2 separate regions of the Homo sapiens genome follow, and region 1 is linked to region 2. The links come from fine-mapping of genetic effects on gene expression. A gene starts in region 2. The other region holds a variant in brackets. All regions are shown on one strand. Distances are between the middles of the regions.

Evidence for each region. PIP is the estimated chance that this variant, and not a neighbour inherited with it, causes the effect.
Region 1: its variant is fine-mapped to the expression of SEC23B in whole blood (TOPMed, PIP above 0.99).

What each region holds. Positions count from the first base shown.
Region 1 is chr20:18,473,764-18,478,165 of GRCh38, reverse strand. It overlaps POLR3F (RNA polymerase III subunit F), which reads right to left. Exons shown (of 9, transcript NM_006466.4): 5 at 2,979-3,091. Among named protein-coding and RNA genes, the nearest start is that of MIR3192, 5.4 kb to the right of the region's middle. The variant C/T (reference allele first, on the strand shown) is at 2,175.
Region 2 is chr20:18,505,283-18,509,684 of GRCh38, reverse strand. It overlaps SEC23B (SEC23 homolog B, COPII component), which reads right to left and starts at 1,745. Exons shown (of 20, transcript NM_006363.6): 1 at 1,713-1,745. RefSeq lists enhancers at 1,475-1,524, 1,875-2,204.

The DNA of each region.
Region 1 (4,402 bases), 32 kb after region 2:
CTTTGGAATTTCCCAATAGGCCTTGTTATTCATGGTGAATCCCTTAGATCACACCTGGGTTTATGCTAACAAGGTGACTCCTGATAGGACTCTAAATAGTTTCAGGATAGGAGTTGTCCATGCTGGAAAGACCAACCGCATGATTAGAGGGTTGGGGCTTTGGGCCACATGACATCAGTCCAATCTCTTGGGAGAAGAGAGGAGCTGGAGATTGAATTCACTCACATGACCAAGGATTCAATCAATCATGCCTGTATAATGAAACCCTAATAAAAACTTTGGACAGCAAAGCTTGGGTGGGCTTCCAAATTTGGTTAATGCTTCTGTCATACAAAATAATTTCACCACCCTAGAAATATTTCTCATGCTTCACCTATTCAACTTTCCCTACCATCCCTGCCCTCACCCCGATCTTTTTAGTCTGTCTAGTTTTGCCTTTTCCAGTATGTCATATAGTTGTAATCATACAGTATGTAGCCTTTTCGGACTGGCTTCTTTTACTTAGCAATATGCATTTAAGATTTACTCATATCTTTTCATGATAGCTTATTTCTTTTTATAACTGAATACTATTCTGGTTTGTCTATCCATTCACCTATTGAAGGATACCTTGGTTGCTTCCAGTTTTTGATTATGAATAAAGCTGCTGATTACGAATAAAGCTGCTATAAATATTCATGTAGTTATGTGGACATGAGTTTTCAAATCAGTTGGGTAAATACTTAAGAGCTTGACCTTTGGACAATGTGGTAAGACTCTGTTTAGTTTTGTAAAAACTGCCCAGTTTTTTAACAAAAGGACTGAAAATTTTGCATTCTTAGCAATGTATGAGTGTTCATCTTGGTCTGTATCTTGTCAGCATATGGTATTACCAATTTTTAGATTTTAGCTATTCTAATAGGTGTGTAGTGGTATCTCACTATACTAAATTTTATTTTAATTTGCAGTTCTCTAATGAAAAATAATGTAGAGCATCTTTTCATATGCTTATCTGCCATCTGTATGTCTTCTTTGGTGAGGTTCAGATCTTTTGCTCATTTTTAGTTGGATTATTTGTTTTCATTGTGTGTTTTTTTTTTTTTTTCTTTTTTTGAGATGGAGTTTCGCTTTTGTTGCCCAGGCTGGAGTACAATGGTGCAATCTTGCTCACTGCAACCTCTGCCTCCTGGGTTCAAGCAATTCTCCTGCCTCAGCCTCCCAAGTAGCTGGGATTACAGACATGTGCCACCACGCCTGGATAATTTTGTATTTTTAGTAGAGACAGGGTTTCACCATGTTGGTGAGGCTAGACTTGAACTCCTGACCTCAGGTGATCCACCCGCCTTGGCCTCCCAAAGTGTTGTTTTCTTATTGCTGAATTTTAGGAGTTCTTTGTATATTTTGGAGACAAGTCCTTTATCAAATATGTGATTTGCAAATATCTTTTAGTATGTAACTTGTCTTTTCATTCTCTTAATGTGTCTTGCAAAGCAGAGGTTTTCAAAAAATTTTGATAAACTCCAACTTATTAACATTTTCTTTCATAGACTACTATTGGAGTTATAGTCCAAGAATTCATTAACAAAGCCAAGGTCATGTAGATTTTCTATGTTTTCTTCAAAAAGTTTTATAGTTTTGCACTTTACACTGAGATCTAAGATTATTTTAACCCTTAAAAGGACACAGAAGTTCACCAACGGATGAATGAACAAAAGGTGATATACATCTATACAATGGAATTTTAATTGGCAATAAGAAGGAATAAAGCACAATATGGATAAATCTTGAAAACATCATGCTAAGTCAAAGTAGTCATACATAAAAGACTACATATTCTATTATTCCATTTATAGGAACTGTCCAGAATAGGCAAATCTATAATAAAGGCAGAAAATAAATTATTCGTTTTTAGGGCCTATGGAAAGAGAGGCTGGGAAACAAATACTAGTGGCCACATTTGGGGGTGATGAAAATGTTCTAAAATTAGAACAGCGGTGATGGTTGCACAACTCTTAGCTTATAGTAAAAACCAGTGACTGTAAATCCAAAGATTTTACACTTTAAAAGGTTGAATGAATTCTGTAGTATGAATGATGAATTATATTTCAGCAGAGCTGTTATTAAACATAAAGATGTAGAAGGAGGACTGACAAAATGAGGCTACATGATAGGGTTTTATTATATGATTTTTTCTA[C/T]CTTTGTATATATTTGAAATTATCCATTAAACAATGTGGAAGGGAAATGCTATTCTGATAAATAAAATCACTAATAAGCATCAAATTCTTATAAGTGATGTTATAATTCTTATAATTCTTGTTTTATTCAAAAATAAAAACTTGAAGCAACATATGTAAGCGGATATTTGAGGAAAGGTCTACTCACTGCCACAGACCTAACAGCTCTGAAATTATAAAATTTGAATTATAGCTGTAATTCTTATGAAATGTGTATTGAAGCAAACTTTATTCTAGGGGAATCTCAGTTCCTCTGATGTCTAAATCAGTGAGGTCAGGGGCAGATGTCCCCGAGGGAGCCAGCTCTGGAGCAGGGGTGGGGCAGGATGAGGAGCAGGAAAAACACACGTGTACTAGAAGAGAAGCTCCACCAAGGCAGGGATCTTTCTACGACTTGTTCATTAATGTATCCCAAGCACTCAAAACAGTGTCTGGCACACAGCAAACACTCTTTGTTGAATGAGAAAGCTAATATGTCGGGATAAAGTAAATTATCTTACACACCACAAAATCTAGGAAAAATGTTCACAGTTCCAAAGATTCTTCACTGAAGACAGTAAAGTAGTTTTAGATTTTTGAGTGGGTGAGTGAGACACCAAGAGCTAACTGTGTAGGGACAAGTCTAAGCAGCATCTCCAAACCAATCCAACATGAGCTAAATTTTTAAGTCTTTTTTGACCAGCTGTTCTAAATCATGACATAACTTCAAGAATAAAAACTTGAAGCAACATATGTAAGTGGGTATCTGAGGAAAGGACTACTCACTGCTACAGACTTAACAGCTTTGATAAGCTTTTTACTTTCCAGATTCTTCAGAATTTTGTTGATTTCTGTTAATGGCAAATTACTTTTATAGCGGATATCTCTGCTCCATATTCCTATAAGAAAGTAAAGTAAAATAAGTTGAACTCTGGTTTTCATGGATTTTTAATGTTATTCCTCTAACTTGTGTCTCATTCCAAAGCTAGCAGTATAAAGCTAACAGTAAAGAATGCTGGCTAAAGTAGCAAAAGTATGCTAAACAATAAATAAGTATAATGCTTTGTAAGACTTATTATAATGATTTATAATTTCTAACTAGAAATTTCTTGGAATCCCAGTGTGGCAAACTTTTAAAAAACTTATGGAAAGGGCTGGGCATGGTGGCTCATGCCTGTAATCCCAGCACTTAGGGAGGCCGAGGCAGGTGGGTCACCTGAGCTCAGGAGTTTGAGACCAGCCTGGCCAACATGGTGAAACTCTGTCCCTACTAAAAATACAAAAATAATTAGCCGGGCCTGATGGCATGCACCTGTAGTCCTAGCTACTCGGGAGGCTGAGGCATGAGACTCGTTTGAACCCGGGAGGCGGAGGTTGCACTGAGCCGAGATCACACCATTGCACTCCAGCCTGGGCAACAGAGCAAGACTCCATCTCAAAAAAAAGAAAAAAAAAATTATGAAAACGACGTTTTTATAATGGAAGGAAAAATCATGGATGCAATGGAATTTTATCATCTGTACCCTTATCTCTGTTTTCTGATACTTTCATTTTAGATTGTAAATGTGAAATACAAACTTAAATTTGGGTCAAGGTCAACTGCCATCCTCAAGTGGGACAAAAACACTCTTTAGATGAGTGTCTGCATGCATGTAATCCATTATTTATACAACATTGTATTTGTGAGATGGAAAAGGAAGCCTAGGGTTCTTATGGCTGCTAAAAGCCCTGTGTGAGAAGCAATGATTTCTTTTTCAAAGAAGGAAATAAGTGTTATATATGGAAAGGGAATGTATGTAAATATTTTGCTTTATTTTCTTCCCAATGTAATGGCATATGAGATAGGAAGATTAAAAAAATATGCAGAATGGCTTTCTCATAGGACTATTTTTAAAAATGTTAATTTTAATAAATATAAGAATTAGTTATGTAATTTCAGATTACATCTCAATTTTTCCAGCTAATATCAATGACTCAAATAGATCCCAAATTATTGTAACTTAGGATTGCAATTTAGATACAGTTCTTCAAGCGGGTAGAAGAGAAACTATAGCTGCGGAGGGACATCTGTTAAGACACTGCTACACCACACCAGCTTTCCTTTTGGTCCTTGCAAAAACGAGAGGTGTCAGCATCCACAATTTATAGATAAGATAAAGAAACTGAAGCTCACAAAGTTTAAGTAACTTGTCCATGGTCATATAGCTAGA
Region 2 (4,402 bases):
ACTCGGGAGGCAGAGATTGCAGTGAGGCGAGACAATGCCATTGCACAGCCTGGGCGACAGAGCCAGACTCTGTTTCAAAAAAAAAATGAAGACTGTGGTCAGTAAAACTGTCCTACAGGCTAAACTCTCAAACCCAGATGATCCCAACTTCATTGAGTATTTATACATCCTGTTCATATCCTAAAATCTAGGGTAACACACAACTCAGCTATTGGGGTTCAAGGGAACAAGCCCCTCAAGAAAAGTAGTAAAAAGGCAAATTAAAGAGTCTATCAAATTAAAGTGGCCTCTCGCGCCCACTTCCTGAATATGGATAACAACTGTCTGTTATTTTGGGAAGTACCATACTGTAAATAATTTTGATTAAGGCAATAATATTGCATGGCTAGAAAAGCAAATGAATTACTCTACTACATAAAGCCCAGAACACAAGAATTCCAATGTTTGCTCCAACTGAAACTCTAAGAAATCTGTTTATTTCTGGCAACGGCAAGAACCTGAAGCACTGTGTGCACAGGAAGCACTCTGGAGCTTCATGGGAAGCAAAGGGATAACTAAAGTCGGAATGAAAGCAAGTTCTATCACAACTCTCAGCAAGTATGTCAGCAGATTTCATTAAATAACCGTCTCTCTCTCAAAACGTTCTTTATTAAAAGGCACTGGCGGCCGGGCGCGGTGGCTCACGCCTGTAATCCCAGCACTTTGGGCGACCGAGGCCGGTGGATGACCTGAGGTCAGGAATTCAAGACCAGCCTGGCCAACATGGCAAAACCCCGTCTCTACTAAAAATACAAAAATTAGCTGGGCGTGGTGGCAGGTGCCTGTAATCCCAGCTACTCGGGAGGCTGCGGCAGGGAGGACTGCTTGACCTTGGGAGGCATTGGTTGCAGTGAGCCGAGATCACGCCACTGCACTCCAGCCTGGGCGACAGAGCGAGACTCCATCTCAAAAAAAAAAAAAAAAAAAAAGAAGCTACTGCCTCCATCTAATGGTTTCCAAGCATGTACAGCCTAAGACCTGCTCCCTCCTTTTCCTACTGCCTGTTTCCCTCACCCTTCTAGGGTCTGGATTCTTAGCAGTGGACACATAATCCAAGGGGACTATAGAAGGTCCACTAATCATCTGAAGTTATGCGCATGAGGGAATATGCCGTTTTTCTAGGGAGATGGGTCCATAGCTTTTACCAAAGTATCGGGGAAGGTATCTGAAGAGGTAAATAACTGAAAGTATGAATTAGTGAATGAATGAAAGGCCTGGAAAGATAACAGGAGAATATGCCAAAAAATCTGAACCACCCTTATCGCGCCAACTCGTAACTTCTCAGGACACAGTGACCATGTGTATGTAAGAATAAGTGAGGTTTAATCCTTGAAGGGAGTCCAAGGACCTGGGTTCCAGTTCCAGCTGTCATGAAGCAAAAGTCGTTTCACTTGTCTGAGTCTTGAGTTTCTCAACTATAAAACGGGACTTGGGTCCTTCCAGGTGTGCGCACTCCGCAATTCTGGGGAAACTGGAGCCAGAAATCGGTCCCGGCCTGGTGCGGGACGACATCCGCAGGGGACTCCCGGATCATCCATTCCCCCGCTACCCTAAACTGTCAAGAAAAGGCCTCCTCCCAGAAGCCGCTCACCTCGCCCCCGGCAGAAACTCATACCCGTGCCCTCGGCCCTCCGTCACCTATGCGCCCCGCTCACCTGGCCGGAGCCGCTCACCTAGCTAGAGCCGTCCTCACCCACAGCTGCAACAAGCAGGCTCCGGCTCCCACCGCCAAGTCCAGCTCAGCTCTCAACCGATTGGCCAGCGCCCCAGCGCGTCATGCCACGGCGCTGTCCACTGGCCAATCAAAGAGCGCTTCTCCGACGGACTGGAGGAAGCGAGAGACTCAGAGAAGCTCTGCCACCATCTTGGAACAGGGCAAGACAGGTGTATGTCGCACTTCAAAACGAGAGTTCCTCGGAACACGTTTCCCCACCCCTAAACGTTTCTGTTTCAGAAAACCCCGGCGCCTGCCGCACCGTTGCCTAAGCGCAGCCAGCGCTCCTCAGAGGTTCGCCCTGATACAATATGACATCCGCTCGTCTCAGTGGGAAGTCCCGCTGATCGCCTTAGCTACCGGAAAGCGAGAACGATGACGTATGCTCGCGGAACAGGGAGCTGCACTGGTTGGAAGAAACTAAGGCTGCCGGAAGAAGGCATTAGCATGCGGAAGGGGCGGGGCGGGTGGTGAGCGCGGCGGCGCTTACGCACTTGCTGGTTTGGGAGTCGGTCTCTGTGGTTAAGTTTGAAGTACAGAGGTGTGGTGGTGCTTCACGTTACAAGCTCTCCTACCGTCGCTTGCTGTAATGTCTTGGCGCTCTCAGCGGAGGCTGGCACTAGCGCACAGTCCCTGTCATCCTTCTACATGGAGATAAATAATTGAGAACTGTAATATTCAACCATTTTAGGAGAGTAAGCTTAGAAATACATGGAACATAACTTTCTTTTAAAAAATAATTCCAACGTTTAGATTTAGGGGGTACACTGCGTATTTGTTACCTGGCTATGAGGTTTCGAATTCGAATGAGCTGGTCACCCAGATACTGAGCATAGTACCCAAGTTTTTCAGCCCCTCCCTGCCTCCCTCCCCACTCTAGTAGTCCCCAGCGTCTATTAATGTCACCTTTGTGTCCATGTGTGCCCAATGCTTAGCTCCCACTTTCAAGTGAGAACATGTATTTGGTTTTCTGCTTCTGCGTTAATTCTTTTAGGATCATGGCCTCCAGATGCATCCATGTTGCTGCAAAAGGCGCGATAGAACACAACTGTATAAAGCCACCACAACCATTTTTACACACGCTGACAAGTGGCAAACATGAACACATCATTACTGTGACTCAGAGTTGTAGTCTCTGTAGCATATAAAAATAAGCAAAACGATGTAAACATAAAATTATGCAAGAACATATCTAGGCATCCAAGAAGTATCCATTAATTAGCTCAATTTAATACTAAGTTTTAAGTTATCTACAGATCATAGAAATTATTAATAGTTTAAGGCACAAAGAAACAATTACTGTTAAATGTGAGAATGATTCAGTTTTGTTGAACAAATTCACATTTTTCAGGATCTTAAACAATGTAATGTTAATATTAGCTTATCAATAGTAAACTTTTATAAATTTAGGAAGTTCAGATTAATTATTCTCGGTAAGGAAACAAACTCAAAATGTACACATGTATAATACTTAACACTGAGAAAAGACATAGCTGGGATTTTTTTTAACCAAAACTTAATATTATTCGCCAAAGATTTGCCTTGATTATTTGAACCTGGATTCTTTCTGTACTAGCAATTTCTGTAAGAAAGATTGTTATAGGACCATCAGGTTCGATTGTCCATTGTGCGGTAACAGAAAGAATAGGAGTTGCAGCAGATAAAGAGTTCCATAATCAAGTGGCAGCCAAATGAGGAGACAAGAGCAATCCTCAAATCCACCTCCCCAAGAGATTAGAGATGGCATTTTTAAGAAGTCTGGAGGGGCAATGGGCTAAAGTGTGGGGATTTCTGATTGGTCAGGAAGTGAGAGGTGAAGTCATGGGACAGGGAGATGAAGAAACTTCATTCCAGTGTTGTTTCTTGGTGGAGGTCTTTATTTATTTATTTAAAAAAATTTTTTTTTTGTAAAGCAGGGTCTCACTTTGTTGCCCAGGCTAGTCTCAAACTCCGGGCTTCAGGCGATCCTCTCACCTTGGCCTCCCAAAGTGCTAAGATTACAGGCGTGAGCCACTGTGCCCTTCCTGGTGGGGATCCCTAGACAGTTTGGCATCAGCTGTTTTGTGGGAATTCAGGATCTGAAAAATACCTTAAGCAATTCCTGGGTACAAAGAGCTAGTGTCAGAGATTCTGTGGATAGGAGCAATCAGGGAGTAGGTGATCAGTGTGCTGCAAGGCTTTTGGTTAGTTAGCAGCTGCAGGGAAGTGAATTGAAGGGCACCAATGCACCCTGGTCAGTGCCTAACTAACCTGCCTAAAGGCTGGCTTGTAATCTTGTTAACCCTGTCAGGATGGTTTCAGCATTTTTAAGAAATTTTGCATGCATAAGTTTAATTTACTTATTTTCTGGAATTTTAGAAATAATTGATTTACATGTGTTTGTTTCCATAAGTGAATTATAACAGAGCTCCTTTAAGACATGAAATAATATAACTTATTAAAACTTTACAAAGGTAGTAAGATTTTTTTACTCCCACAACAAGAGGGGAAGGCCTTTGTTGATTACAGCCGGGAAGACACATAGACACATAGCATATAGCTTTGGTTCTGCAACTTTGGCCACAGGTCGAAAGTAAATTCAGAAACATAAAAATTCAGTGGACTAGATAACAAAAAGCTGTTCTCCTTCCCAATGGGCATGGAAGTCTT